Homo sapiens: one gene and its partners. The protein of the gene in region 1 purifies or fractionates together with the protein of each later gene. This does not show direct contact. Each region holds a gene or a part of one and is shown in the gene's direction. Other genes may lie near its edges. The genes, in order: OSBPL10, CLINT1, WRNIP1 and MMP2.

Region 1 (7,799 bases):
AGATGATTGATAATTTTGTGTGTGGAGTTTTTTGTTGTTGTTGTTTTTAACTGGTTTTGGAATTAGAGTGTGGGTGGTAAAAGGGTCAGGTTTTGTTGTTTGGGAACAAGGTCTGGTAATTTCCCAGCGGGGCCAAGGTAACGGACTATCTGCCTGACAGCCGCCCACCTGGACCTTCCCACCTGGACCTTCCCATGCTGTGCACGCGCGTGCGTGCACACCTTACAGGTACTGTTTTCTTTCAGCTTTGCATGAATATAAGAGTTGGCCTCCAAATCTGTGAAAACACATTTTTATTCATTCTCACCGGTGTTCTGGCTCACAGACAATGAGGATAATCATGCTGCCTATTCAAAATCTGCTCGTAAAAATTCCCAAAACAAATCTTTTGACTCTATGCTGGAAATTCTGAAGCAAGAACATAGTATAATCACGCCACTGGTGGATCACACATTCTTATTTTAGCAAATAGCTGTGAATGAAGTTTATTCATTGTTTGAAGAAACCTATAATAATCCTTGTTAAATTCAAGCATCTGTGTTACTGGTTCTTCAACTTTTTTTTGAGTCACAAATCTCTTCAAGGCTCTAAGGCTGTGATTCTCTTCCTAGAAAAAAGGAATCTAACTCCAAATTTGTCTTTGAGTTTCAGGGAGTACATGGCTCCTTAGAAGCCCTTCCAAAACCCCATGAGATAAGAGCACCTTTCATTCACTTAGCACATTTTTATTGAGCACCTACTAGATGCTTGGCATTGCCTTAGGAGCTGTGGTTACTTGAGCAAACAAAACAGACCAAAAAAGATCTGTTCTGATGATGCTTCTGTTCTCCTTCTTTCTCACGGGGAAATGAAATAAATAAGTAAATAAAATGGATTGTGTGGTAAGTTGAAGAATGGTAAGTGTTGTAGAGAAACAAAGCAGGTGGGGGTCCGGGGAAGACCAGGGAGAGGGCAGTTGAGCTTTCAGATGAGCTGGCCAGTGGGAAGGCCTCACTAAGGTGATATTTGAGCAAAGACCCAAAGCGGGCAAAGAGGGGTAAGGCAAGCCTTATAGGTCACTGGGAAAGAGTTTGTGTGCAGAAAGAATGAGGCAGAGGCCTACAGGTAAAATGTCCCTGGCACGGGGATGGAGACAGGAAGCCCATGTGGCTGGAGCAGGGTGAACAGGGGCAGGTGGAGGTCAGGGAGGTGATGGTGGCCAGATCACATAGGACCTCATGGGCTATTGCTAGGGACACTGGCTCTTACAGTGAGGGAGCCCTGAAGCCACTGGTGCTTTTGAGCTGGAGAGTACCAGGCTCAATCTCATAGTTCAGCAAGACTGCTCCAGCCGTTTGTTGAAAACAGACCCTGGGCGGGGGTAATGGTGGAAACAAGGAGACTAGGGAGGAGGTTGTGAGAATAACTAAGCAGGTGATGATGGTGGCTTGGACCAGGTGGAAAATAGTGGAGGAAGTAAATGTAGTGGAGTAGTAAGGATCTGGATAGGTTCTAAAGTTAGAGCCAAGAGGATCTGCCTCTGGATGGGATGTGGAGTGTGAGAGAAAGTGTTGCCAAGGTTTTGACCTGAGCACCTAGAAGGATGGACTAGCTGTTAAAACTGAGATGGGGAGACTTGAGGGCTGGGTATTGGGCTACTTTGAAGGAAGAGTATGGGAGCTCAGGGCGGTTGTTAGGGTTTAGTCATTGAAGGGAGTGCTAAAGTAGGCAATTGTGTATGCAAGCTGGAGTTTCATAGGGAGGGTCCTGGCTGAGATAAAATATTTAAGGCCTTGAGACTAATGAGACTGCTGAGTGAGCACTGATTTCTGAAGCATTAAGCAGCATTAAGAGGTCTGCAAGATGAACAGCCAGCCGAGGAGACTGATGAGGGGTGGCCAGAGAAGTAGACTGAATGGAATGGGAGAAGGTGCTCCTTGCGAGGCAAGTGAAGAAGGGCTTCAAAGTGCGAGAGTGATCAACTGCATCACATGATGCTGGTTACTCCAGTAAGATGAGAACTGAGAAGGGATCATGGATTTTGGATCATGGAGGTCATTCGTCACCTTGACAGCAGTTGTCAGTGGAGTAGCACTAGTGAAAATCTGACTAGAATAAAGTCAAGAGAGAAGGAAGGAGAGGAATTAGGGACTGTAAATGTGGACAGTTCCTCCTTATTTAGGGTTTGCATGCAATGGTACTGTTTTGGAAAATAGCCACTCTTGGGTTCCACTTCTCTGTTAGGTTTACACCCCAAAGCGCTGCTCCCCCTCTTGCATAGGTAAGATGGCAACTCCAGAGTGCCCACAGGTGTACTCAGCATTCGTGTTGGGCCTTCACTGGGGTCTTCCTTGCATGCAGGTCTAGTAATCAGCAGCTCATGCTGCACTCGTCACACCTTCCTCTCAAGGATCAATCAGGATCAAGAAGTTCACCAATGAGACATTCATTAATTTGTGTAGGAAGCTAGGGACACACCTGTCACCAGGATGATCTTGGGTCACCCAGTTTAGGCCTTTTCCACAATTCAGATGGAGGTGGGTTGTATCTGTGGGGGAAAGATGTAAAAATACATCTATCTTTAGATAAACCTCATCAATAATGAGTATTATCCTCCTCTTAGGTTATCTTCTGTAAGAGTGCAGTATTACAACTATTTTCCAATTAGAAAAATCCCAATTCATGACTGGGTTGTCTGGCTTTTCCTGCTGTTGACAAGGGGAGATGGATGCCTGAAGTGGTCTCTCTTCTTAAAGAGGAGTTGTTACCAGTGATGACTGGACCATGAAATCTTGTAGCTGAAAGGGCATTTGTCCACCATATGCTCCAGGGTTTCCAGCTGTGCTGTAGAGAATCCCAGGCTCCTTAGAGGGGCACAGGAAGTGAGTGGCAAGGTTGGTGTTCTTCCAAGTCCACTCCAGCCCGAGTATCTCCATCCATCCTTACCTATTTACCAGAGGGACTTCCCTATACAAGTTTATTTCCGAAAGGGTTCTGTTGCTTCAGAATGCTCAGCAGACCCCGGATGAGTCCAGCTATCCTCATTTCACAGATGAGGAGCCCGAGAGAGGCAGCTTGCCTAGGAACCCATGCATAATTCACAGTATCCATCCTGCCCTCAGCACAAGCCATTGAAGGGGGATGCAGGGCAGGTGCTGGGGTCTCCTTGAGTCAGGGGCCATTTCTCAGCTCATCTCTGACCTGTGGATGAGATACCAGAATCTGAGGAGGTTCAGGCAGCCCCCTGAGTTCACAAGCCCAGGAAGAGCAGAGGAGCAGGGTTGAGCAGCAGGCGGTGGGCCGGGGAAGGGGGATCAGGTCAAGGGCGATTAGAGCCCTATATGGACACAGCCAGGGCTGTTGAGGCCTCTCTCTGACACTGAGAAAACAAACTTGATTCAAGTGTGCTTCTGTGGGGGCAGGGCTAGAGGAACGAGAGGTATTTCCTCACCGGCCTCTTTTCTGACCCCAGTGACTGCTTGTTCTCCTGAACTCTGCCTTCTCCTTGGATGAAGCGACAGGGAGCTACCACCGTGCAGCACTGTTTGGGTTAAAGCCCCCTGGCAGGTTTCAAAAAGGTGTTTCAGCCCAGACTGGGGACTCTTGAAGTTGTGTGAACTAAGAGCTCCGGTTAGAATACTCGGGTAACTCTTCCTATTGAAAGCAGGGAGAAGATTGCCAAGGACTCCCCTGTGGGAGGTTTATGTTCACATTGATTTTTATACTTGAGTTTGTAATAAGAAATGGGAGCAACATTAATCTTGATTTTGACTTATCTGGGGCTCTGTGTTTTCATAGGTTGCTTTGGGCTTGGCTCGTGCTATGAGGTTTATATTGGTAAAAAATCTTTTCCTTTTCTTAAAAACAAAAATTGGTATTCAGGAGACTCATCTCATTCTATTTAATTTTATTCCTTATTCTAAATTTCCCACATAATAAATATTTTGAAGATGAAATATGTTTGTTTGCCAGAGAAGGTAGAGAAGGCAGTTCACACTTTGTATTTATGCCCCATATGCGAGATAATTCCTTACACATTTTCTACAGTTAGTATTTTAATCATGTTTACCTCCTTATCGGTAACAGTGGTGGCTCGAATAAATCTGTCATTTACCCATTCACTTATCCATTCATCCATTTATTTGTGAAGTGATTGGCACCATCCTTGATGCCAGAGATGCAGCAGAGGCCACAGCACACAGATTCCCTGCCCCCGGGAGCTCATGCTCCAACAGGAGGGTCGGAGAGAAGACAAGACATGTGCGTGAAGTCCTCAATGTGATGGATGATGACTGACACTAAGAGACAAAGTAGGAAGGAGGAGAGTGAAGCTGGGGCAGGGAGGTTGCAATTTTCAATAATGTGGACCTCAGCAAGATAGAGCAGCTGAGGAAAGGCCTGAAGCAGGTTTAAGAAGGGGTCTTCTATGCAAAAAAGAACAGCAAGTGGTAAGGCCCCAAGTTGGGAGCTAGTGGCTGGGGTGTTTTGAGGACAGCCAGGGGCCACTGTGTCTGCAGCAGTGAGTGCGTGGCTGGGAAGAGAGGAGATAAAGCCAGAGAGGAGAGGCCACATTTTGGGATCTGATTTTGGGGCTCTGGAACGTCTTTGCCGTTTGCTCTGAGATGGGAGTCGCTGAGGGTAGACATGATTTTAGCATCCCTGTGTTGGCTGAGTGAAGAATAGACTGAAGGCAGAAGTGGAGAGGGCCCAGTGCAAAGATAGAAGCAGAGAGGCAAGTTGTTTCTTATTTCTCTTCTTCCCTCCTACACACACACACACACACACACACACACACACACACACACACACACACAGTTTGAATCTGTGATTAGTCAGAGTAAGTGCTTGGTGAATAGAATGCCTTTTGTCTGGGGATTTCCCTGCACTCAGCAGAAGTGCTTGTTGCCGCTTGTCAAGGCCTGAGAAAGCCAGATTCTTAAATTGGAGTAGAGGGTCAATACCTCCCAGTCTGTGAGCCCCTAATTCTTGCCATTAGACAAATATGTGGAAATGTTCGAAAAGGTAGATTTGCAATCCATTTTTGGTGATTTAGGGAATTCTTCACAGAAACGCAATCTCTCCCTTCAGGATCCTTCCTTCTCTACCAAATAGCAGTCACTTTTCCCCTGTCCCCGACCACCAGCGGTGGGCTCCGACAAGGAGGTGGCTGTGCAGTGGTGTCACGTGTGTGATTGTGTTTTAAAGCTGGTTATTCTCTCTTCCCCACACAATGTGTTCATCTTTCCCTTCTTCCCTCTACACAGCATGTTCATCATCATCTTCTTCCCTCTGCTTCCCTGCACCCTTGTCCTTCCTGTCTCCCTCTGGTGTCTCTAGCCGTTTCACTTAAGCCACACCGTCAACGGGGCACCCCTCAGCCCAGCACAGCACATGGCCTCCTGTCATTGCCTCTGCAGCTGAACTTGAGAGAGTGATGAGGTCCTTTTAGCCCTCTGTCCCCTGAACTAACCAACATCTTTGCTCTGTCTTTTTTTTTTTTTTTTTTTTTGAGACGGAGTCTCGCTCTGTCGCCCAGGCCGGACTGCGGACTGCAGTGGCGCAATCTCGGCTCACTGCAAGCTCCGCTTCCTGGGTTCACGCCATTCTCCTGCCTCAGCCTCCCGAGTAGCTGGGACTACAGGCGCCCGCCACCGCGCCCGGCTAATTTTTTGTATTTTTAGTAGAGACGGGGTTTCACCTTGTTAGCCAGGATGGTCTCGATCTCCTGACCTCATGATCCACCCGCCTCGGCCTCCCAAAGTGCTGGGATTACAGGCGTGAGCCACCGCGCCCGGCCTTTGCTCTGTCTTATGTTGGCCGTTGTTGAGTGTCCGTGTCTCCACAGGGTAGGCCTGTGAGGTCTCAGGATCATAGCTCCTCTGTTTCTCATAGGCAGCAGGCAGAGGCTGGAGCCCTTGATTCACTTTACCCAGCCCAGGACCACAGTGTCGTGGGTGAGAAGCCGTGGAACACCCTCTCCTGAGGCCCTCAGATGCAGCCTGCAGATGAAGCAGAATTAGAATTTGTTGCTCTCACTTTTTCTAACTGCTTGAAAATGCCACTCAGAATTTCTCAATAGCATGCTGAGTTCAGAAAGAAGATTCTGGAGAGAGACTGTGAAAGGCCTCTCCTGGACATGGCCCTTCCTGGCCACTCACCTGATGTTTTCCTGCTGTGGGTGGGCCTGGGCATGGCCAGGGGACCCTTGGCTCGTTCTTGTGAGGCCTTGAGTTTGCCTAAGTCCCTTCAGTAGCTGCGTCCCCTTATCTTTTGTATTAATTAAAATGTGTCCGCTGTAATGCAGGATCTGATTTTTCACACAAACTATTTCTAAGAATCTCCAAACTTCGAAGCAGAAGGTTCTGGCTCCCACACTCAGAGCTCCTTTGATTGGGGGAAGGCAGGAGGTTGGATAATTTCCCTTCCCTCGCATATTTCCTGCATATTCTATGAATTTGTTGATTGGGTGTAAATAATGCTTTTTCCATCTCCTCATTATAAAAATGAGGTCTTACATGGGTCCACTTGGAATTGTGAACGTAAATACGTGGGCTCATCTCCTAAATCATGGCCTTTAGGCTGTGGCATATTTGACTGTAATGAAATGCTATTATGAAGTGCTTCATTATGCCCTGAATTCACTCACGTTGACCCCAGAGACTGCACCCCTTTCTCCCACCCTCTCGTTTCTATTGCTCTAACAGTGAGAGCCGACACTGTTCAGTCAACCTAAGACCTCTGTCCACGGGAAAGTGTGGGCTGCTCACCCCTCCCAACCTCGCACCGCTGTGGAGCTGAGGGGCGTTCAGCTGCTCTTTGCAGCCCACTTCCCTCAAAATGCCTGAATCAATGCCTGGTAAATGGTGCAGGCTCTTAATTGAGTCTGTGGGGAAAAACAGTTAGTTCTAATGAGAGGAAGCAACATGATTGCCACTGGGCTTGTGAGTGCCAATGCTGCCGGGTCTGCAAACACACTTCCCAGAGTTCCTTCTGTGACTCTACTTTCCAGGATGAATGTCCCAGCTGAATATTTTGGTTCCTCAGATTGAGATTGGACACAAAATTATTTTAAGTTTATCAGTTTGAAAATCTTAATGCTTTGCCTTTATTGGCGAATCAATTTGTGGAATTTCAAATGAAGATCTCCCAGCCTGAGGAAGATGCATGGAAGGATTGATTATTTGATGTTTTTTTTTTTTTTGGCTTCTCTTAGCTGTTAGGCCAAATGAAGAAGTAACTTATATTTGTGATCCCATTTGTAAGTCTAATTTTAATATGTCTTTTATTCATATTAAGGAGATTTTTTTTTAAATGCAACCCTGAAAAAAAAGAGTATGTACTAAGAAGGCATAATTGCAGGTGATTTGATGAATGAACACACATTTATGGATTTTCAGAAACAAGCCAAAGGCATGTGGTCTTGCCAGTGCCTTCAAATCAGTTTAGCTCTGAGGCTCACTGACCTCCCCCAGGACTTGGGGGAAATTTTACCTTGATTTGGAAGAGATTTTTCTGAAGAAAAATGGGAGGAGGATGCTATCTCTTATGCAGTATTACATTAGAGAAAGTCTGCCCTGTGTCTCTTCCATCCCTCACAGGTATAGCCTATTGGAAGACGTTGTAGTTTCCTCTTTTTTTTTTTTTTTTTTTTGAGATGGAGTCTCGCTCTGTCGCCCAGGCTGCAGTGCAGTGGCGCAATCTCGGCTCACTGCAAGCTCCGCCTCCCAGGTTCACGCCATTCTCCTGCCTCAGCCTCCCGAGTAGCTGGGACTACAGGTGCCCGCCACCATGCCCGGCTAATTTTTGGTATTTTTAGTAGA
Region 2 (7,799 bases), on another chromosome or scaffold:
CTAATTTTCTTTTCTAGGAATACATAGAATACTAAAATACACGCAGTACTAATCTTGACTTCTACTATCACATGAATCTTCCTATTTTTAACTTGTGGGTTCGGCAATAGGATTTTAACCATTAATGGCTAATTAAATGACTGCATATTTTGAGGTGTCATACAGAGATTAAAACAGATATATGCCCTTCCCTCTTAGGATTGCCATTTTAAAAAGAAGGGGGAAGAAAGTTTCTATAACTCAGAGTTTAGAGTATAAAAATAAAAAGTTTGATCAGGAGATCCATCTTTCTAATTTGAAACCAATTTAGCTGTATTTTTGGCCCAAACCAGATAAGCTTCCTGACAGTCATTCCAGCCTCAGTCTCTCTTTCTTTATTTAAGCATTGCATACTTTGACATATAAAAGATGACTGACGATACTCGCAGTTTTTCATCTAGGCCTATTGTTTTGTTTATTCTTCCCAGTACACTTAAGAGCAGCTAGAACATTCATCTTTCATGTTTATTTTTAATATAATAATATAGTTTCTCTAAAATAGGGCATAGGTGCTTGAAGCAGATACACAAAATAGGAACTGTCTTTCACGGCATGTCCCTTTGGACTTGTTCTGTCTTCTGTGAGCTCTGACAATCTCTTGCTCATTTTGTGTATGTGCAGACTGGCCAGTGCTGTGTATCTTAGCAGCTGTTCACTGAGGCTCTCCAGCTCCCCCCACCCATATATGTTTATATTTGGATTATATTGAGCTCTCATATCTCCTTCAATGGAACCATGTAAAAATCTTAACATATAAAATATCCTTACTCATTTATTCCTCTGCTTTCCCACTCTCAAAGAAAAAACACTGCGTTTAGTTAGCTGTTTAAGGATGTTTCTAACAGCAGAAAAATTCCCTTTTTTATATTGAAGCATCAAATACAAGTTAGTTTTTTCTTTTTCTTTTTTTTAAATAGGGCTAACTCATAGGCAGTGCAACCAGAGTCGGCCACAAGTTAGTTTTTGAATTGGGCAAAAATATTTCTCCTAAAGCATATAAATAATGTTTTGAAGTTTCTATTTGGGGAAGTCCAAAGTTTTTGGATTATTTACCCAAGTAGTAACTTTATTCTTCAGGTTTTTCAAAGTAGTTGTAGCAACTTAATGTGTTTTTAATAGAAATTGCTATTTGAAACTTATTTCCACACTATTCTTGCTTGTATCTTTCTTTTTGCCAGCATGATATATAATTATATCAGCTAAACTTAGAAAATTGAATACGTTTTCAAACTCAGTCACAATGCACTAACTGCAGCATCTGTATTAAAGATAGAGTTGGATATCCTGTGTGTTTGCATCACATCCTTTTGCTAAGTTATTGTTCATGGTTTATGTTATTCAGACTTAACTAATCACTCTTAGCAGTTTTGTGTTTTTTCTTTTTCTTTTCTTTTTTTTTTTTTTTGAGGATTCTTGCTCTGTCATCCAGGCTGGAGTGCAGTGTTACCATCTCAGCTCACTGCAACCTCCGCCTCCCGGGTTCAAGTGATTCTCCTGCCTCATCCTCCCAAGAAGCTGGGACCACAGGCGTGAGCCACCATGCCTCGCCAATTTTTGTATTTTTAGGGTTTCGCCATGTTGGCCAGGCTGGTCTTGAACTCCTGACCTCAAGTGATCCAGCCACCTTGGCCTCCCAAAGTGCTGGGATTACAGGCATGAGCCACCGCACCCGGCCAGTTTTGTGTTTTTTCATTCTGACATTAGATAATGTCTTGCCAATATCCAGTATCTTTAGCAGTAATTCAGTATGATGTTCACCATGCCATGCTAATCAGTTTGGTTTTCATCCACTTCCATTTTTCGTGTAAATTTGTTTCTTTCCGAAGTCTGGTTCATCACACTGTTGTTGAAATGTACATACACATTGTTGGAAAATCACTTTTTTTAAAAAAACCATCCTGGTTTAAATTTTGTCTAGAAAACTTCATTTTGTCATGTTTTCTTTAAGTTGATGGTCATTTCCAGATTCAGTAAATATGTTAAAATCCTTAAACATGTAACAGAAAATTTTAGCCTTGCAATTTTAGGAGGCAATTCAGCAAAATCGTTTTGTTCAATCTCCAAAGGCTATGTATCCTTTTAGATCCTGTAAACAAAAGTTCAAAACAAAAGCTCCATTAGCCACTTTTTAGTTATTTTGTTGTTTCTCATTGTCCTTTTCATTTTCTTCCAACCTGCCTTAATTTTTAATGTTTTCTTTTTTAAAAATACCTCACGTGCTCTCTGTACCTTCTACTGTTGCTTCTTAAGTTGGATTTGGACATGGAAATGGAAGGGTTTCATTTTGTGTCTGTAATTCCTATGTCTCCTTTGGGTCCCTAGGGGCAAGGACTAAAACAAATCTTGACATTTTGGGTTTTTTGTTTACTGCCACGATCTATTCTCTGCATTCCCAAATTCACACAGAGGCTCTAGGTTTCGCCAGTCTCAGCATATGTTTGGAATGGGTGTTTGAATTGGTTGACACTGTTCTGAACTACTGTTTGAGCATACTTCCTGATTCTAGTATGTGTAGTTTTTGGTAGTTAGAGTAATCCTTTCTTTGTACAGTAATTACGGAATGCTTTCCCATCCCCTGAAAATTCATTGAATTATTTTTTTAGTTTGATACTGAGGCGTGACAGTTATTGAGACTTTTTAGCTTATTGGGACATGTAGCATTCAGATTGGAGTTCCTTCAGTTGTATTTTTTAAGATACTGTTGCTATCCAATGCTTTTCTGAAAATTGGGAAACCATTAAGGGACAGGAATAAAATATAACATATTAAGTGTCTTTTGTGAAAACAGAAAGATTTTCATTTCTCTTTTGCTTATATAGCTTGTGTTGGTTTTGTGTTTTCCACTACTCCTTTCAGTAGCCTTTAAGAATTTCCTGATATGCTGTGCTGTGCATTAAGGTTGTGTAAGTATTCATAAACAAAAGCTTTTGAATCTGCATTCCTGCCACTTAATGACTGGCATTACATGCTATGCCTTGCTGTAATTGTGTTGATTCAGCACTGTGGGAGCTTTCTGTTTTCCTTTGAAAATGATTTTATTATGAGGAAAAGCCTGAGAAATAAGGACTTGTAGATACCTTTTGAATTTAATGTCGTTAGAATTGCTTCTTTTTTTAATGCTCTATCTAGGTGAAAGATATGATCCTGAGCCCAAATCAAAATGGGATGAGGAGTGGGATAAAAACAAGAGTGCTTTTCCATTCAGTGATAAATTAGGTGAGCTGAGTGATAAAATTGGAAGCACAATTGATGACACCATCAGCAAGTTCCGGAGGAAAGATAGAGAAGACTCTCCAGAAAGATGCAGGTATTTTACCACTTTGTCTCCCGGGTCTCTTAGAAAGAGCCCTAAATTTATGCCACTGGGTTTTTGGTTTTTTGTTGGTTTTGTTTGGGGTATTAACATTATCTGAAATTGGGCCTTTTTTTTTTTTTTTAATAGACTTCATTTGTTTTTAGAGCAATTTAAGCTCACAGAAAAATTGTGCATAAAGTACAGAGTTGTCATATACCCACTTCCCCTTCATAACAGGTTCTGTGAACATCTTGCATTACTATGGTGCATTTGTTAACAATTGAAAAGCCAGTATGGATACACTTATTAACTAAAGTCTGTAGTTTACGTTGGGGTTTCCTATATTGTACACTTCTATGGGTTTCGACAAATGCATAATATTCCTCATTACTGTATTGTATAGAATAGTTTCACTGCCATAAATATGCCCTGTGCAGAAATGTGGAACAAGTCTTAAATGTGCAAGTTATCCTTGCACAGGGGGCATGCTAATCTTCCCTGTATTGTTCTGGTTTTAGTACATATGCTGCTGAAGCAAGCACTGTGCAACTATTTTTAAGATACTAGGTTATACACTACTTGCAATTAGTATTGACATACTTTCCATGTTGCCTCTGTCTACTTATTTTTGAAGTTGATCCTGTGTATTTTTATTCAAGCTAGTAGTCTTTCCTTGGATTTTTTTCCCCAGTAAAAACTTGTATAGATTATTTTGCATTTGGACCTTAGATGATCCAGGGACCTAAGATACTGAGGGATAATGAAGTTTATATATTAAGTTTAATTAAACATAAGTCAAAGGATTTGAAATTTAATGCTTCCTTGACATTTCATTATGATTCTGTGCCAGTGTGTACCAGAAAAACAATCCAAATGGATTTTGAACCAGTTTTTGAGAATAGAGCTGTATTTTTATAAACTACATTTTCTGATGGTATTTAGTTTTACATGGAACAATACTTTGAGCTTTGCAGCAGTCACTTTTGTTCTTACTTACCAATATTATTATAAACCAATTTTTCTGAGAATGTAAAGGGTAATGCATATAGCACTTAATTTACAGAGCAAATTTTACTTTTTAAATTTGACCTTTATCATTTGTGCCTCACAATATCTCTACTAGAGTAGAATAAGAATTTTGTCTTTGTTGTTTATAAGTAAAACCTAAAACCCAGTCACACTGTGTGGACTTGCCTAAATAACACAGTTAGTGATGGAACCAAGCCTTCAAGTGAGTTCTCGTAACTAAATGCCATCTCTTTTTCTTTACCCTGCGCCAAAAATCCTAATAGTTCAGAATTAGGGATCATTAAAAAGAGGTCCAAACAAAAATACAATCTAATTAGTGTATTTTTAGGATGTTTTCATATCTTTTAAATCCCTGGAATGCCTGTTCAGGAAATACCAACAGAATAATGGCCATAATTTCAATAATGTTTTCCAAACCAAGCCAAAACTTACACAGGCCACAAAAACATTAATGAGGGAAACAGCTCTGTATATTTGAAGTGGGCACCATTTCCCTCCCAATGTTTAGTATTTATAATTATCATATGCATCCTTTTTCAGTATAAAAAAGCTAGATATATACTTGTAAAATAGATTTATTCAAAGTGCTAAAAATAAGTTCTAGCTCTTCAAAGATCACATTCCAGTTTTTCAAACAGTCTTGAAAAAGAGACATTTCAGGGCAGGCTCAGTTCCACCACTAACTGTGTTACTTTAGGCAGATCCACACAGTCTGGTTGGGTCTTAGGTTTTACTTATAAACAATAACGCTATGTAGGCTGGTTAGATATCTGTGTGTGTTCTGTATTGTTACTTTCTCTCCTTTGCCCTTCTATCCTTAGTTTTTCTTTTCTTTGTCTCTCTACTCTTCTTTTATTTCTGTTTCTCCCATGATTTTTATTTTTTATGTTGCCTCTAAGACAGGATCTCCTAGAGTTTCTAAATCTTTAAGGAGTATTTAGGTTTAAAAGAGTGAAAATGCAGTGAACATGATTTATCGTGATAATGATAGGGCACACCAGGAACTTTTTATCTTAAAGTATTTGTGAGAGAAGAGTAGATTTTTTGACAGAGTTGCATATGACCTCAATCCTGATGGCATGTTACCTGAATTTCATACTTATTAGTTCACTATTACATTCAGGAATTCTTGAACATTGATCAGATATGGAGCTTCCATTTCATCGTGTGCTAGTCAGATTTATATTTTCAACTTGTGAATAAATTATTTTGCGCTGAAATAAAATTGGACACCAAAAAAGTAAGAAATTTCAGTTTTACTTGTAGGACTAATGGGAATCTTCAGGTCATTTGTTGTTGAGAAGTTAGTAAGGGCTTTTGAATGCGTATCAGAACTTGTAGGTTCCTTAAAATGTTTATATATAAAAATATATTTAACCCCTTTGCTCTGTGTGGGAAGTCATTCTTTTTGATCTTTGATTTATACAAGTTCCAGATTGGTTTATATTTAAGTACAAGTTGCTATAGTTCAGTCTGAGGTAAATTGCATCAGCAGTTTAAAGGAGAATTTTAAACATTATATTCCAGAATATTTATAAATTAAACCACCTACTCTAAAATTAAGTAATACAGGTAATGGAACATGTTTCAAGTAACATTTCTCTCTTTCTCTCTCTTTCGCTCTCTCTCTCTCTCTCTCTCTCTCTCCTACTTACATCAGAAAAAAACCCAATGACTTGTTACTAGAGAACAGACTAGGGCTGATATTTTCATTCCTAGCATATGAAAAACCCAGGCTTTTACTGTTTAGTTTTTAAAATCTTTTTCACTATTAAAGAAAAAGGAAAGAAAAAATTGTTGAATGTGGCTGAAGGAGAATTATCTTTAAAATATTTTAAATACAGTTGTTTTCTAGAAAGCATTTTCTATAGTTATATAAAAGTTTGATCTCCTGATACTATAGTAAAATAGCACAGTTGTAAAGTGCATTCCCTTATATTTTCATGCATTTACAGATGAGTTTAATTATTCGAATTAAGATGTGTGATTTTTTTAGCATCCATTGAACTTTTATTATTTTATTATGTACACACATTAGTCTTTGAGAGTTGATGCAGAATTGTGTTGTAAAAGTGGAACTATAGTAATTTGCACACAGTCCATGTCAAGAAAATAATCATCACATGCAAGTGTTTGAACTCTCAGGGTCTTATCATGGATTCTGATATCAAATCCTATTTTATTTTTAAGTTAAGCTTAAATCTGTAATAAAAACGAGTTATTTTGACATTTTTTATTTATACACATTTATGTAAATACTTTTTTGTAGCAGTATTTTAGACTTATATAGGATATTCTCTGTGTTTCCACTTCCCCTCCCCAGCGCACATATATCATTATTCAGACAGCTTAGATAACATTCTGTTGATCCCTGTCAAGTAGTCAAAGTATGAAATTTTGGAGTTACTGTATTTGAAATTCTTTAGCTCAAATCACTGAGGGACCCATTTTAAAATAATCCCGTCTTATTATTTTGCTTCATTTTTAATATCTTTTAGCGACAGCGATGAGGAAAAGAAAGCGAGAAGAGGCAGATCTCCCAAAGGTGAATTCAAAGATGAAGAGGAGACTGTGACGACAAAGCATATTCATATCACACAGGCCACAGAGACCACCACAACCAGACACAAGCGCACAGCAAATCCTTCCAAAACCATTGATCTTGGAGCAGCAGCACATTACACAGGGGACAAAGCAAGTCCAGATCAGAATGCTTCAACCCACACACCTCAGTCTTCAGTTAAGGTGGGAATGGCAGTAGTTTACACATTATACATGGTTTTATTTTTATAAACCGCTCTTCGAATTCCTGCATTAGTAGGCTTGGGCATTTCTAGGCAATCATATTAATTATGGATCATCTGGCATGTATTACCAAGAGACATTAATAATAAGAAATCTCTTTGAGGGGAGAAACCTGTCCAATTGCTGAATGATTGGGTACTTTCTATGAAAGTAGAAATGACACTTTTGGTTTGTTTGGGGAAGGTTGTGAATCAGAATGTAGTGCCTCTGTCCCCATCTAGACAATACTGGTTACCAACCACAAGTAGATTCACTAAAGAAAACATTGGAAGTATTTGAAAGTTTTAAGAAATGACAAACGAGGGAGTAAGAAGAGATATATAGGGGCAAGTTATCTCATGTAATGTAGAAACGTTGCCTATAAAGGGAGGCGTGTTTGCCTCACAGTCATTACTGATCAGTATCAAAAGAAGCACTGCCTCTTGTACCATCTTCGTTTGTTTTTATTTACCATAGAGATGAAATCCACCTGCTAGGTACCTGGCCAAACCCTAGTCTTTTCAACAGAAATCTGCCAAATAGGGAGATTTGCCTCAAAAGACTAAATTATTGTTTTTGTCACTTTCCCCGACTACTGTTTCCCCAGTTTGTGTCTTTGCAAGAGAAATAGCTAAAAGCTGGGAAAAACAGT
Region 3 (7,799 bases), on another chromosome or scaffold:
GGACGGGGTGAAATTTAAAATGTGGATTATACCCAAGGGGAGGAAGAAGAAGGGAGTGGCGCGAGCTCAGGTAGCTTTCGTTGTGGCAGCACCTCCATTCCCCATGACTCCAAACCAGAAGTGTGGAACCACTTGTACTTTGGTCAGGAGTTTAAAAGCCAAAGGAAGACCTTATTTTCCAACCACATAAAATACATAATCATTGCTAAAGACTTATTCACAGCATACTGTTGATAAATCAATGGAGTAGACGGCTAGCTGGCTTCTGTCCTAATTAATAAGGCCTGCCTCCCTGTCTGTATATGAGGACTAATGGAAATGAGGCAGTTTATACTAGTAAATACCATGGTATATAAGGCTGCCCATCTCGTCACTGTCCAAAGAGCATGCCATGCCCCTAAATACATACAAAAGACAAATTCATGGAGAAGGGATACATACCAAAATACTAACGTCAAGGTAGTCTAGCAGAAGGTGAATTTTCTCCCTTTGTCTATTTTTAAAATTTAATGTAAATTTTTTTAAAGTAAATGTTGACAGGTCTGAGTAGCTTGTTTTTCAAACAATTATTTAATGGTTAAGGATGTAAAACTATGTAAAATATGGTCCCAGTTTTTGTTTTAGGTTAGCTGTAAGGTTGATGGTTGCATGGGTGAGTGGATCGTAAAGTCAGCACTTGGCACAGTAGCTTTCATTCTGCTGGAAATATCAAGTACATTTTTATCTCTCAGTGCTGGAAATATGGATTCTTTTTGTTTTCTCTATACTTTCCATATAATTTATAAGAAGTAAAGGTTTCACTCTGAGATTATGATAAAACTGAAGTTAGTCCATTCATTTTGCAAATATTGGATGCCTATCATCTACCAGGTCTGGGAATACAAAGAATAAAATATTCCTCTCCTTGAGGTGCTCCGCATAGTAGGGATGATGAATGTAATGTAATCAACACACAATCCAACCCATGGTGCAGGATATAGGCTAGTTCAGTCCGTTAGGATCCAATGGGGCTCCTGCTTTGACTCCTTTTTCTTCCCTCAATTGTCCTGAAGGCTTTTTGTTGCTAGGCAGCTTTCCAAGGAGAGAGAATCCATTGTTTTTACTAGTTCTGAGGCAGAAATGAGATGCCCAAGCAGTTTCTGTTCTCCCTACCTGTCTTCCCACACAGGTTGAGTGCAGTAAGGGGCTGAGAGTGCACCCTTCCCTCTCAGGCATGTCACGTACTGCTACACCCCTGTGATGCTGGTCCTTCCCCATACATTTTCTTTAGTATATGTTCTGTCCATCATTATCTTCTAAATCATCTTCCAGAAGACTTGCTAACTAATTTCTGGTTGAGCAGTGATCCCCAGGCTTTATAGAGTGCCAGTGACATGGCCTCGGTGTTTGTTTTTTTGTTGTTCTGGTGAGGTCTGCTGAGAGAATGCTACCATCAGGAGAGAGGAAGATGGGTCTCCAGGCTGCACCACTGGCTCTGGGGCCCAGGCAGTTGGCATGAGTGAGGAGAGAGTCATTTGTTGTAAAGCTGGGGCTGGCCAGTTGTCTTAGGTGTGGTGAGAGACCCACAAGGAATAACTGGAAATCAACTTTGGTAAATATGGGGGTGAGATGAGGCATCTTTAAGGCATTGGGAACAAATCCTTCCGTGAATGAAATGCAGATTGGTGTTATTTGGGTTACTCAGTGAGCAGAGTAGTGTCAGTGAGTGGGTGTATGCTGAGGAGTTCTGCATTGATCCAGCAGGCAAGCTGGGTCCCCTTCGGAAACTGCCACCCCTCCCCGGCCCAGCCCCGTTGGTGCCTGTACATTGTTTTCCAGGTAGCTGATTCGGACAGTCCTAATGGGCTTATTATTTACTGTAGATGTTCTCAGCTGAATGTTGATGACATGGGTGAACTGTAACTGAAAAATTTTATTTTTTTGCTTCACAAATGTGCAGCTAGCAGCTCAGCCAGGAATAAGACCCCACTAAGTTATGAAATGTGTTAGATGTCTTGTTTAACTCAACTAGGGATAGAAAATTTTACTGAGTCAGCCTTCTGATCATAGTTAGATCTTATTTATGAGGGTCCAAATTTAGAAATGTGACTGTAAGTTTTAGTCCTGATGTTCAGAGAGAGGTTAGGTGGCTTACCCAGGGTCTCATGGCTATGTACCAGCAGTCTTCTCGTCGCTTCCCAGGCTAATGACCTCTCTGCTACCCTGTGCGGATTTTGCATGATTAGTGTCCACTATGAGATGACCTACTGCAGCATCCCAAGATTCCCCAGGCCAAGAGAATCCTGAGACCTGCTTCTAGGACCTGCTGTGCTCAGAGTAACTAGGGACCCAATTTGTTGTTTTTAAAATGAAGGAATTGAACTGCATGATCTGGAGCCCTTCAGAGCTAATATTCAGATATAATGCTGACTCTCCCCTGTGTGGAAAGTGGTCTAAGCACATCTGTCTCATCGGATGTAGGCTGCATTTGGAACATGTTTTCCATACACGGTAATGAGGTGCTAGCATTTCTAATAAAGTTTTCACTGTTGTGCAGGGTAGAACCAGAGAGACCACCTGTCAACAGTGACTTTCCAGGCCAGTCAGTGTCTGTTTCACACAGACTTAGATGTATGAACCTATGCAGTGAGATACCCTCGACACTCATAAGATACAGGGCGATAACCTGGTGACTTAGGAGCCCCAGTCAGTTCGTAGTCTTGATGATGCTTAAGCACATTGACAAAGGTGAGAATAAGAGGCAAAGGCCTTGAACTCTTCAGTGTCCTTGCTGAGAAGTATGAGTTTCTAAGACATGTGCAGAACAAGAAGTATGCAGCCTGAGTGTGACCGTAACTAACCCTGCTTGTGTTTCAGGCCCGCCATGTTCATAGAGGATAAAGCAGTAGACACCCTGGCTTACCTCAGTGACGGTGACGCCCGAGCTGGGTTGAACGGACTGCAGCTGGCGGTGCTGGCTAGGTTAAGCTCTAGGAAGATGTTCTGTAAGAAGAGTGGGCAATCCTATTCTCCCAGTAGAGTTCTGATCACAGAGAATGACGTGAAGGAGGGCCTACAGCGATCCCACATTTTATATGACCGGGCAGGTAAGTAATTCACCTGTGGAAAGAGTGAAACCATACGGAAAGAAGTGTGTGCACACATTCTCATTTCCGGAAGCCTGACTGGGTTCCGGAAGCATTCCAGCTGGGTCCAGAGCATTCCAGTGATTCTCAGGTGGATCTGCATGTTGGTATTAAGCCTTCTACACAGGGCTGACCTTTCCGAAGAGAGGCATGAAGCAGAAGCTGCCCTGTTGAGAATCTAGAGGAGTTTTGGGGTTGGAAATGGCAGGCTGCACATTCACCTTAGAAGGTAGTTGGCTATTCCCCACCTTGCAGAATACAATCACCTTTGAAAGCCTGTGCATTCACTTGACAATGAATATGTTTTGTGATCATTTACAACGGCAGTAAATAAAAAGAGGACTTTTGTCATAATGACTTATTAGTTTTAATTGAGAATTAAAATGCTTTATTTCTAGAGTCTATACTAAAAAATAGTCATGGATCTTGAAGTTTTTATTTTATGTAGTAGCTTTTTCAAAAATTTAATTTTGCTGTGTGCACTTATCTGTTTTTGTAGAACTGCATTTACAGATAGCAGATTTGATACCAGCTCTTATTAAATCTGTGACTTAGCAATATTAAATGTCATTAGCACAGCACATTTGCATCTTTTTATAAAAGAAGTGGGAGATGAATATAACATACTGTAGATTAGCAAACTTCTGCTGCTTGAGCATTTGTGGGACTTTGGATGGAATCATGTTGCAGTAACTGTGGAATATAATTTCCACACTTTTCAAAGCTCTGCCAGAAAAGGAGGCTGATAATTGAATGTTCCTGATCTCACGTAGGCTGTGCCACGTGACAATGGAGAGTCCTTACTGGTTAGAGAAGGGGTGGAGGGGCTTAAGAATGACTTTGGTTCCAAGCGCTGCCTCTTCGTGGGTGAGCACACTCGCTGCATGACCTAGGGGGGCTGACCAAAGCTTTTTGGCTTTAGCGTGCCTCAGCTGATGGTAGCTCAGGGGTGTTCATTAGTGCTAAGGACACACTGGCAAGTTGAATAAATAATCCTGTCTACATTGTGACGTGAATGTGCCTCAGCGGGGCCTGCTCAGATGGCTGGCTCTCCCTAGTGCTCTGGAGCATGACGTGAATGCTTGCAAAGTCTGAAAAGCAACACATTCTAGGTGTGTAGAGCCCTGCTTGACTTTTGGTCAAATAGAAAAAATGTAGATATGAACAAGAAAAAAGATTTTAAGACATTAAAAAAATCTCACCATGCCGGGATCGCCATTGTTTCTGAAGTGCAGCAGCAGCGGTCTCTCTCTCTCTTCTTGTAGGTGTCCCAAAGGATTTGCCTTGTTTTGATTGGAACGACTAGGACTGTTCTTTGACATTTTATCAGACTGTCACTTGAGATCCATATAACATGGCATTCACTAACACTCAGCCATTGAGTATTTTATAGGTGTATTCATTTTTTAAATTCTCAAAATTGCTTTATGGAGATAGCTATTAATATTACCCCCATTTTAAGATAACAAAGCAAGTGGTGAAACTGACCCGTAAATCCAGGTCTTACTGGTTCCCAAGACTGTCCTTCCCCCCGTCCGCATTTGCCTCCACACCAGCCTTGCCATGCTGTTACTGATCTCACCCATTACATCATGCTCCTGAGAGGGGTCACCCGTCCATGCACATACAGAGCGGATCTTGGAGGGGTTCAGTCCTAGGAATCCCACTTCCTGAGCTCCACGTTGCAGAGCTCTGCACAGTGGGGATCACCTTGTCTATAGCTTGGAGCTGGGGGGTGGTGGAGGCTGCCTAGTGCCGCTGCCTAGTGCCAGCGCCTTAAGAACCCCACATCCTATACATCTTCCCAGTATGAGTGTGTTTACACACCCCACCCCAGTGCAACATGTCTGCCCCACAGTGGATCCGCAGACACATAAATATCATTCAGATCTTGGAGAAAGCTGCTTTTACAGGCTTTGCTCTATAAATAGGGATAGTGGAAGCATTGCCCTGGAAACCTGTTAGCTTATACTCTTGGGCCTTTTTATAACTCCAGTGAGACAAAGACCCACCCCCAGAGTTGTGATTATTTTTGTATATGCCACCTAGTTCATAGTTACCCACTAGTAGGATCCAGTGATGTTTCTGCATCAGAGTGAAGGAATTTCTAAATGAGAGCAAACTCTCTGCCATGCATTGACATCGGGGTTCTATAGAAGTCGTCAGATTTCAGGTTATAAAGCAGTGTGTAATAAAAGCAAACATGGAAGGTAGCATAGAATAATACTAGTATCTATCACTGATGCAAAAGAATCTTTTTACAGTGCCTGCTCTGTGCCAGGCGTGTGTTATTTAATACAGCCCTGTGAGGTAAGTGGTCTCGTTTTTCCCATTTTACAGATGAGAAACCTGAGGCACAGTGAGGATCAGGAACTTGCCCATGGCCCATGAGCTTGGGGGTCCAGCCCAGGCTGTTTGGTCCCAGAGCCTGTGCTCTTGTCCATTATACTGGTGGTATTGCCCCTGGCATTGACAAAGTGGGAAAAGATGACTAACCTGTGTAGGGGGAGTTTAAATTTGACATAAAGTGGTGTGGGTAGTTTCTTCCAGCCCCCATGCCCGTGAGTTTAGCCAGGCCTGTTACCTGCTACCCTCTTCCCCGCCTTCCTCCACCCTGCAGAGGAGCAGAGCGTAGCCTGAGTGCCTGGGCCAGCAGGGTGAGGGAGTGGGCCAGAACCATGCAGATGTCATCCAGGACACCCTCTCGGCCAGTGTCCATAGCACTCTGACTTCACCAGGGGAGCCCTGCACAGGAGACACTCAGTTTGTTCTCAGAAATCCAGTAGCTGGGCTGACCCATCCATCTGCCCTGGCTCTCAGAAACCAGAATCACTCAGGCTGAGCCGTGGGTCCTGCAGGTCTTTCCCCTGTGGGAGGCCAGCATCTTCGCTTGCTCTCTTCTCCACCTGAAGACCAACTGTCATCTTACCAGCGAGCTCAGCTGCCAGGGTTTGTGGCTGGCGCCAGTCGTATTGTGGACATGGGCTTATGCTGAGCACAGACCAGGTGCTCCTCTGGGAGGAGTGAGACTCACGGGAACACCATCCTCCGCTTTCTCGTGAGGAGGGTGCCCCCTCCTTGAACTTACCTAAGGGACGATGGCCAGAGAATAGTGAAATGTATGCAGGTGCCACTGCTTAGTTCCTGAGAACTGTTTAGCTGTCATTTTTTTGCCCTTAAATATGCCTTTTTTTAAAGCACATTTCACTGATTTCATGTGAATCTAGGGTAAAAATGGAGTAGTAAGACCAGGCGGTGAGAGAGTGGGCTTCCGTCCACTTCAGGGCGGAAGCTGGTTAGTCCACGTGTCGGTCCTTCTGGGACCCTGCCACACAGGTGTCCCCACACCAAGGCTGGCAGAAGGAGGTTTAAATGACCACAGGCTTCGGATATCAGAAAGGCAGCTGGAAATGACACTGAGGAACAGATGGGCTATAACAGCTGCCCTTGCCACTTGGCTCTACATCCTCCTGGCTCCGAGCAGGCCCACCGTTGCTTTTCCTCCAGTAGATGGTGGGCCACGGGATAGAGCCAGAACAGAAGACTCGTCCCCCTCCACTCTTGTCTCTGGCAAATCCACCAGCTGGGAGGACCACCTTTCCTCCCTCCTGCCTCTGTGCGTGTGCGTGCACTCCATGTCGACAGCCACAGGTTTCTGCTGCAGCAGCCTCTTCCCCTGAATAGGACTGGGATTAAGCCCCAGCAGCTGGTGCACCCCACTCAGAGCACGGTTAAGGCAGCTGCCCAAACCTCTCCTCGGCTTTCTCAGGGCCTTTATTCGTTCAGGCTTTCTGGAAGTCAGCTGGCGGAGGTGAAGATGGCTTGGGCGCCCCTCCTGTGAGCTCTGTGTGAGTGGTGCTCTTTGTGATGTCAGGTGAGGAGCATTACAACTGCATCTCCGCCCTGCACAAGTCCATGCGGGGCTCAGACCAGAACGCCTCCCTCTACTGGCTGGCTCGCATGCTCGAGGGAGGAGAGGACCCACTCTACGTGGCACGGAGGCTTGTCAGGTTTGCCAGCGAGGACATAGGTGAGTGTGATGGGAGGGTCCCGGAGTCCTATGTCCATGAGGGTGGGGAAATGGCTAACAGTTACATCGTGGCTTTTTTTTTTTTTTTTTTTGCAGGGCGGGGTGGGCGGGGGTAGCAGGAAGAATGTCTCAGGGCTATGTGAGACTGGCAGGAGAAGATAAGACTTTATGCCTGAGCTCAGTCGTTTATTTCCTGGTGTATGTGCTTTTGAATGTTTATGTTCATAAAGTCACCATTTTCTGTTTCCTCTTCGGGAATGTTTTTACTAACATGAGTGGCTATTCAGAGTATTGCAATAGATGAGCTGCTTTTAAATTTGCTTTAAGTCAGGTGTTCAAGGTTTTCTTTGGACAGCTCCCAAGGTAGAAATGGAAGACTCTAGACACTATATGAAGAAAAAGATCAGGAAAGCTCTCCTCTTCTTTGGTCTTAGGGGATGTTTTGTTTTTAGTGTTTCCATCCTGGTGAATGTCTCCATAGCCTTCACTTCTTATGTTTGTTATACAGAGACTCATGTTTTTCTAGATGCAGAGTTTTTATCCACAAGGAAACAGTTCTTAACACCACACAGTAACCACTCTCAATATTTCTTGCATAAGTTCATGGGATCAGAGACTAGAGCTAAGTCAGGCTGTTTTGCTAC
Region 4 (7,799 bases), on another chromosome or scaffold:
GCTCCCTGAACCTCTGCAGGGACCTGCTCAGTTTGGGCCTCAGTTTGGGCAGGGCCAGTTGTATGACTCATGAAGGACAGGACTACTTTCTTTTTGCAAATGGCTGATTCAGGATTTAAACCCAGGTCTGTCTACTGCCAGAGCCCATGCACATAGTCCTTGAATCTCTTTAGAAGAAAACAGGAGGAAAAAAGTCCCCAAGTCACCAGCCGCAAGGTAGATAAATGAGTTGATAGAGGTAAAGGAAGGATGCTGGAGTATAATGATTCCATATCACAGCCTCTGGAGCCAGATTGCTTTGTCCCAAATCCAGATCTACCATTTGTGAACTGTGTGATCGTAAGCAAGTTTCTTAACCTCTCTGTGCTTCAGTTTCCTCCTCTGTATAATAGGGTTAGTATATCTACATTACAGAGTTTTGAGCATTAAATGAGTTAACATATTCTGACTTTAGTGCCTGGACATATAGTCAGCACCCAGCACCAACAAGTGGTAGCCATGCTCTCTATAGCTGTATGTCCTGTCGCTCAACTAATGGGTGACCGTGCTGGTTTGGGAACCCAGTACTCCACCCAGTGCTCTGGGACCCCTGGCTTATTTCCTGTCTGGACTATGGCACTGGGTTGGGGGGCTGATTGCTACAGCCTGCTTTGGTCAGTACTGTGCCATCCTAATGTGGCTAATTGCCTTGGGGGTGTGCATTTCTTTCAGCAATACCTGAACACCTTCTATGGCTGCCCCAAGGAGAGCTGCAACCTGTTTGTGCTGAAGGACACACTAAAGAAGATGCAGAAGTTCTTTGGACTGCCCCAGACAGGTGATCTTGACCAGAATACCATCGAGACCATGCGGAAGCCACGCTGCGGCAACCCAGATGTGGCCAACTACAACTTCTTCCCTCGCAAGCCCAAGTGGGACAAGAACCAGATCACATACAGGTGCCGGGGCAGGGCTTGGGGAGGCAGGGCCATGGGGCTGAGGGACACGAGTCTCCTTGACCCATGCATTCTCTCCACTCAGGGGATCCATGAGGTGTCTTTTGTGAAGGCTTGACATCTTAGGGAGTTTCAATACACAGTTCTTAGAAAATGAAGTCAGACAGACTTGAGTTTCATACTTGCTGGCCATGAGACATTGGGTTACTTTTCAGTGCTGTGAATGTTGGCTTTCCAATCTACAAAATGGGGCTTAAAAAATGCCCTTATATGGTATGTTGGGGAACTAAGCTAGGCTGAACTAATACAAACGGCTTCTATGATTTTTGACACAGAGCAAGAGTGTAGTAATGCTAGTCATTGTTATTGTTTTTAGATGAGGTCATTGGGATGGGCAGAAGGAACGTGATGATTGGTAGCTAATTGGGTTTAGCAGCCCAATTGGGTTATAACTGGTTGCTAATTGGGCCAAGAGCTGTGCTCTGTATGGGTGGTGCTGGGTTCCAATGGTGGGATCTTTGCCCTGTGCCCCATAATGCACTACTTATGGCCCTCCCCCACCAGCCAGAAGTGACAGATGGAACTCCTGAGCTGGGGCCTAAAAATGTTGGCTGGCCTGGGACTCCCTGGGTCTTCAAGGCATTCTGGGAGGGTTGTCCTTGGCAGTGAGCCCTGCCCAGCCTACACACACATACACGCAGGCACATGCTCACATATACATACACATACCTGTGCACCCTTCCCGTGCTTGTGCATATACTTGTATGTTCACATACACACACACACTCAAACTTTTTCATACATCTGTGCACACACACATACTTGCATATACATACACTTATGCACATGCATACACACTCACATGCAGTTCTACCACCTCCAGGATCATTGGCTACACACCTGATCTGGACCCAGAGACAGTGGATGATGCCTTTGCTCGTGCCTTCCAAGTCTGGAGCGATGTGACCCCACTGCGGTTTTCTCGAATCCATGATGGAGAGGCAGACATCATGATCAACTTTGGCCGCTGGGGTAGGCAGAAGATGGGGCAGAAGAGGGGCCAGCAGGGATCAGTGTTGAGACGAGGGGGTGAGATGGACATTAGAGGGGCGTGGGGATCCTAAGGGCGGCTTAGATAGGACAGTAGATGGTGTGGGCCCTGGGGGTGGTTTAGATGGGGGCAGCACAACACGGAGTGGACACTGGAGAGCCACGTTGACATGGGGGCAGATGGTGTGTTGTGGTATAACCTGGAGGCCGTCTAAACCCGAAGCAAGTGGTCTACTGTGCTGTCCAATATGGCAGCCATTAGGCAGAATATACATGGCTGTTTAAATTTAAATTAGTTAAAAATTTTAAATTAGTTTCCTGGTCACACTGGGCACATTTTAAGTGCTCAAAAGACACAGGAGGCTAGTGACTATTGATTTTGGACAGCACAGACAAAGAATATTCCTCTTAATCACAGAAAGCTCTGTTGGATGATGCTGGTAGACACTGAGGAACTGTAGATATATGAGAGTGGTTTGGAAACAGTGGAGCAGTGTAGACACTAGAGGAAGGGTCGTAGAACCTGGGGCCAGGTGGCCATGTGAGTTTATGGTGTGAACACTGCCAGTAGCACAGACATAAAGGTATGTGGTATAGACACTGAGTGGTAAGTGATGAAGGTAAAGAGCAGGGGAAACAATGTAGACAAGTGGGTGGGTGGTACAGGCCTTGGTGACAAGGTGGGCATGAGGATTCATGTTGCAGATATTGGTGATAGTGTGACATGAAGGCAGGATTGTGGTTAAGAGGGCAGTATTGACAGGATGGAGGATGGCATAGACACTGGGGATGATGAAGATGGGGTGAGGACACTAGTGTGGTAATGTGGGTATGTGGTACATATAGTGTCATGGTGGTAGAGTAGACAATGGAGGTAGAGGGTATGGATACTGGGAGTCATGTAAACCTGGGAGAGCAGTGTAGACCATAGGATGGTAACAACCAGGTCAGCAGATCTCTACTGAGCTCCTGTTGACAGTCCTGGATAACCCCACTGGGACAAGGGAAGGGGACAGATGCTGGGTGGGCTGACAGGCTCCACATGTAGATGGGGTGTGGAGGGGTTTCAGGGTCTAGGTGGCACAGCTAGACGCTAAGACCCAGTGTGTGTTTCAGAGCATGGCGATGGATACCCCTTTGACGGTAAGGACGGACTCCTGGCTCATGCCTTCGCCCCAGGCACTGGTGTTGGGGGAGACTCCCATTTTGATGACGATGAGCTATGGACCTTGGGAGAAGGCCAAGGTGAGAAAGGGGCCCTCTGCATGCCCCAGACCTTCTCTCCTGTCCTCTCTCCACTCCATTTGCTTGGACCAGAGAGGTGGGAGGGGAGGAAAGTCACACATCTGGGTGAGTCAGAATCTTGGTCTCCAAAGAAGGCCTGGAGAAGTCCAACCTCCCCCTTCCATGTCACTCTTTAGTGGTCCGTGTGAAGTATGGGAACGCCGATGGGGAGTACTGCAAGTTCCCCTTCTTGTTCAATGGCAAGGAGTACAACAGCTGCACTGATACCGGCCGCAGCGATGGCTTCCTCTGGTGCTCCACCACCTACAACTTTGAGAAGGATGGCAAGTACGGCTTCTGTCCCCATGAAGGTGAGCATCCACTCTAGTCCCCAAGACTTTCCACCCCAAGCCTCCAGCTTCCCGGGCTCCCCAGTGTGCTCTTCCCTCCACACTCTCCAGGACTGGCTGCCACTGCCAGTTAATGAGCATCCCTCCAACGTCCTTCACTCAGTTCCCCCCCATCCTGATCTGAGCCATTGCTGTTTCTCTCCCACCAGTACCATGATGAACGTAGTACTCTAATTAAATCAAGTTGATTTTTTTTAAGTTTCACCATTAGCAATCATTTAGGAAGTCACAGATTTGATTTGCTAATTATTTATTTCTAATATATATTGGAGTGAACTTAGAACTATTACAATGCCCAGTGGTTCTCTCTAGAACCAGTCTTTACACTTCAGTCAAGATTGATACTTCAAGGGCATGAGGAAAGGCTTGCTGGTAGCTGGAAACCTAGCAGTGTGATAGGGAGGCAGGACTCAGACCAGGGCTGGACTCAACCTGGTTTGCGTACTCCAACTGAGGAATTTCAGCTATTGCTCCTGCCTTGGTCCTGATGCTGCCTCTGCTAATGCGTGTGTGTGTGTGTGTGTGTGTGCCTGTGTGTGTGTGTGTGTGTGTGTGTGTGTGTGTGTGTGTGTGTCTGGGCACGGGGGCTATACTATCTGCCTCTCTTGGGCACTGTCTTTTTCTGCCTCCTGTCTAGCTTGTGTCTGCATCTCTGTGTCTTGATAAAGACTTTAGGCTTGACTCAGTATTTGTGTTTGTGTGCTTGTCAGTGCCTGAGATGCAACATTTCAGAGATTTTGAAGCCACATGGGGGAAATCTTTTAAAATGGGGTACAGATATTGACATACACACTCAATCCTTTTTAAAAATATCCTTGACACACTTAATAGTCATAAATCACAAAAAGACAATGTAACTTCATACTCTATGAAGTCATCATATTTGATAATTCTGCAGATTGAAAGCCCAGAAAACCTGGCGAAAATGGAAAAAAGTCTAAAAATTTTTAACACTATCTTCTTTCCCATGTCACAAAGACTCTATAGTCTACATAGACTAAAGACTGTCTTTTTGTCTGTAATTTTATGTCTGTGAATCTCCCTAACCCCACTGTAACTGAAAACTAAGCACCAACCATCTTGACAGAATGAAAGAAACAAAGAGCTAGTTAATTCCCTTCCTGTTTATGCTTTTACTACCAGAGCTAAACTTTATATTAAGTAAGAGTTTAAGCCATTCACCATTAATAAGTCAGACATTTTGAAATAAAAATATTTTTTGTATCTTGCGTTTCCCGGTAGGGATTACATGTGGCGTTAACCCTTCCCTGTGTCACCCCTCTGATAGGAACAGAAAGCTTTGGTGATAGTTAGATGTGGAAACAGCTGTATTTCATAAATTTGGGAAGGGTTATTCCCTGCATTGGACATTAGCCATTTACTTTGTGCTTAGCCAGATGCAAGTACGCACAACACGCACGTGTCTGGGTCTCGAGGCAGAGATTGTTGTTACTCAGCCCCTGCTGATGGCTGAGTCAGTGTCTGATTCTTGCCATCCTTGTCAGGGGAATTTGGGAGGAGACAGGGGCTTCCTGGGTGGTAGAAATGAGAGGTCAGAGGCAGGGGGCTGGCATTGGTCGAAGTTAACGCTTTGCCTTTCTCAACTCTGAGGCCACTAAGGTATCTGGACTCAGTCTTGCCTTTTCTCTAGGTGCCATTGTTTCTGGCATTGCAGGACAAGGTCTTTTGGTAGAGAGGGGAGTGGTGAGGATACAGGGCCTCGAGTTCTGTGGTGGGAGGCCAGGGACTGGGCTCCATTCCGGCCATGGTGGAGTTAACGGGGGCTGGTGAGGTCACCTCTGGCGCCGTTGTGCACAGATGGTCCTTGTTATGGACTTGTGGTTTTGCTGGTTGGCAATTCCAGAGACACCATTTTTTAGCTTTGGGTGGATGAGGGGAGGATGGGGAGAATCCAAGACAGACAGGCCAGGCTCTGAACCCCACTCCCTCCCCCAACTCTCCATTTATGGCCCCTGTCTTGAAGATGTCAAAGTAGGAGCCCAGAGTGTTTAGTAAAAGGGACCTGAAGGCACCACCTCCCTCTCCCTCCCTCCTCCTCTTCATTCTTTCTCTCCTTCCTACAGAGACTGCAACAAGGCCATCCAGGAAGGGGCCTGGGGTTGACAGGAGGTAAAGCAAGCTTTCTGTGTATGCGTGTGCACGCACACACACATATATGAGAGTGACAGACTAAGCAAGAGAGATTGAGATTAGTGTGTTTTGTAGTTTTTAGTTACAACCTTCATTCACTTCTTTCATTTCTGTGACCATGAGCAGTTTGAGAACCATCTTTGTCCTAGCCTTGATTTCTCCACCTATCAAATGGAGAGAGATTCTCGTGGTCCTGCCTGCCATGACTGATATATTCATGTCATACATCATTATTACATGAAATTTGCATGGTACAGGTGTGGACCAGGCAGAATGGACAGTGCCCTTGGGGCTGAGGCAGGGTTCTAGAAGCCCTTGCTGTGTGCCAGGTGTCAATCATTTTGTTGTTGGGTGGTCCACAAGGTCCCACGGGAGGGATTGGGATAACCAGGGAAGCAGGGGTTCTCTCTGGGAGCTCAGAGAAGCAGCTCCTTACCAACCAGTAGAGATGTTTTCTTAATATTTTAACAATGCATCAACTTCACTGGTGTGAACCGGCAGGTGGGCAGCCAGCCAGCCCTGTGCCCATGGAAGCATGTCTCATTCACATCCTTCCCTCTCTCCCCCACCCTTAGCCCTGTTCACCATGGGCGGCAACGCTGAAGGACAGCCCTGCAAGTTTCCATTCCGCTTCCAGGGCACATCCTATGACAGCTGCACCACTGAGGGCCGCACGGATGGCTACCGCTGGTGCGGCACCACTGAGGACTACGACCGCGACAAGAAGTATGGCTTCTGCCCTGAGACCGGTGGGTGCCACTCCCTCTCCCTCCCTCAGGGCCCAGCACCTGCTGTCTGACAAAAAAAAAACCCATAAGACTCCGAGTGCCCACCTCCTTTCCCCAAGACAGGGGTGCTAAGACATCTGTGCGAATGACATCCACACCAAGATGTCCGTGTAGCTAGTCAGGATACTTGTCACCTGGTATGGCCTGGGCACTGAAATCAGAACAGACATTGGGCATCAACAGTTGAATTGGTGACACTTAAATGTCAGGCCTGCTCAGGATCCTCTGACCGACCTGCATCCCTTTTCTCTCAGGCTCTCTGGCAGAGACTTCTCTCTCCTCCTCTCTGACCCTGCAATCTCTCTTCCCTGCCTTTCCTGGTCTGTATCTCCACCTTTTAGTCTGTTTTTTATTAAGAGCTCCGTGCTTTCCTCCCTGTCTCCTTCCTGCCCTCCTCTCTATCCCTCCCTCCTTTCCTTCTTCCCTTCCTCCAACAGGAATTTACTGAGCGCCTGCTTTGTGCAGCATACACAGAGGTTGGTCTCTGCAAAGCCCTGCCCAAGGGGGCTCACAGCTGAGGGGCATGTGCTGGTGCCATCAGCTTCATCCAACTCCCTTTGCCCCTAGCCCATCTGCCCCCTTCCATGGGAGGCTCATTAGAACTCTGGAATCTGGCTTCCTGGGTTTGAATTGCAGCTCTGATACTTCCTAGCAGTGTTGGCTTAGGGAAATTTCATCATCTCTCTGATCTATTTCCCATCCATGAAACGCGGTGCTATTCAGTCCCTCCTGCACAAGGCTGTTGTCAGGGGTGGGTGAGATGAGTCTAAAGATACAGTGCCTGGGACTGAGTCTAACTTAGGTGTGGTTCATTAAGGTCAGCGTCATGTCATTGCTTCCTGGTGGTAGCCTCAGACTCTTTGCTGCGCCTTGACCCGTATCCCTAACCCCACAGCCATGTCCACTGTTGGTGGGAACTCAGAAGGTGCCCCCTGTGTCTTCCCCTTCACTTTCCTGGGCAACAAATATGAGAGCTGCACCAGCGCCGGCCGCAGTGACGGAAAGATGTGGTGTGCGACCACAGCCAACTACGATGATGACCGCAAGTGGGGCTTCTGCCCTGACCAAGGTACGAGGCCCTGGTCATTGGACAGAGACCCTGGACATTGCCCTTGCCCCTAAACTTGCTCCAAAAACCTTCCTGAGACCTCACCCACTTCAAGCATAGACACTGCCCCCCAGACACCCACCTACCCAGACCCGCCCACCTGGGCTGAGACAATGCCCATCTCTGGTGGAGC

Evidence for each region.
Region 2: the proteins of OSBPL10 (region 1) and CLINT1 purify together in Homo sapiens (affinity purification with mass spectrometry; one large-scale study listed by BioGRID and IntAct). This does not show direct contact.
Region 3: the proteins of OSBPL10 (region 1) and WRNIP1 purify together in Homo sapiens (affinity purification with mass spectrometry; one large-scale study listed by BioGRID and IntAct). This does not show direct contact.
Region 4: the proteins of OSBPL10 (region 1) and MMP2 purify together in Homo sapiens (affinity purification with mass spectrometry; one large-scale study listed by BioGRID and IntAct). This does not show direct contact.

Annotation. Positions count from the first base shown.
Region 1 is NC_000003.12:31,675,777-31,683,575, reverse strand, and holds part of OSBPL10 (oxysterol-binding protein-related protein 10), read left to right. Parts: intron 1-7,799. UniProt on the Homo sapiens protein: Probable lipid transporter involved in lipid countertransport between the endoplasmic reticulum and the plasma membrane.
Region 2 is NC_000005.10:157,805,175-157,812,973, reverse strand, and holds part of CLINT1 (clathrin interactor 1), read left to right. Parts: intron 1-3,168; coding exon 3,169-3,346; intron 3,347-6,861; coding exon 6,862-7,108; intron 7,109-7,799. UniProt on the Homo sapiens protein: Binds to membranes enriched in phosphatidylinositol 4,5-bisphosphate (PtdIns(4,5)P2). May have a role in transport via clathrin-coated vesicles from the trans-Golgi network to endosomes. Stimulates clathrin assembly.
Region 3 is NC_000006.12:2,776,407-2,784,205, forward strand, and holds part of WRNIP1 (ATPase WRNIP1), read left to right. Parts: intron 1-2,856; coding exon 2,857-3,086; intron 3,087-6,999; coding exon 7,000-7,155; intron 7,156-7,799. UniProt on the Homo sapiens protein: Functions as a modulator of initiation or reinitiation events during DNA polymerase delta-mediated DNA synthesis. In the presence of ATP, stimulation of DNA polymerase delta-mediated DNA synthesis is decreased.
Region 4 is NC_000016.10:55,482,198-55,489,996, forward strand, and holds part of MMP2 (72 kDa type IV collagenase isoform 1 preproprotein), read left to right. Parts: intron 1-711; coding exon 712-938; intron 939-1,818; coding exon 1,819-1,967; intron 1,968-3,101; coding exon 3,102-3,230; intron 3,231-3,406; coding exon 3,407-3,580; intron 3,581-6,345; coding exon 6,346-6,519; intron 6,520-7,453; coding exon 7,454-7,627; intron 7,628-7,799.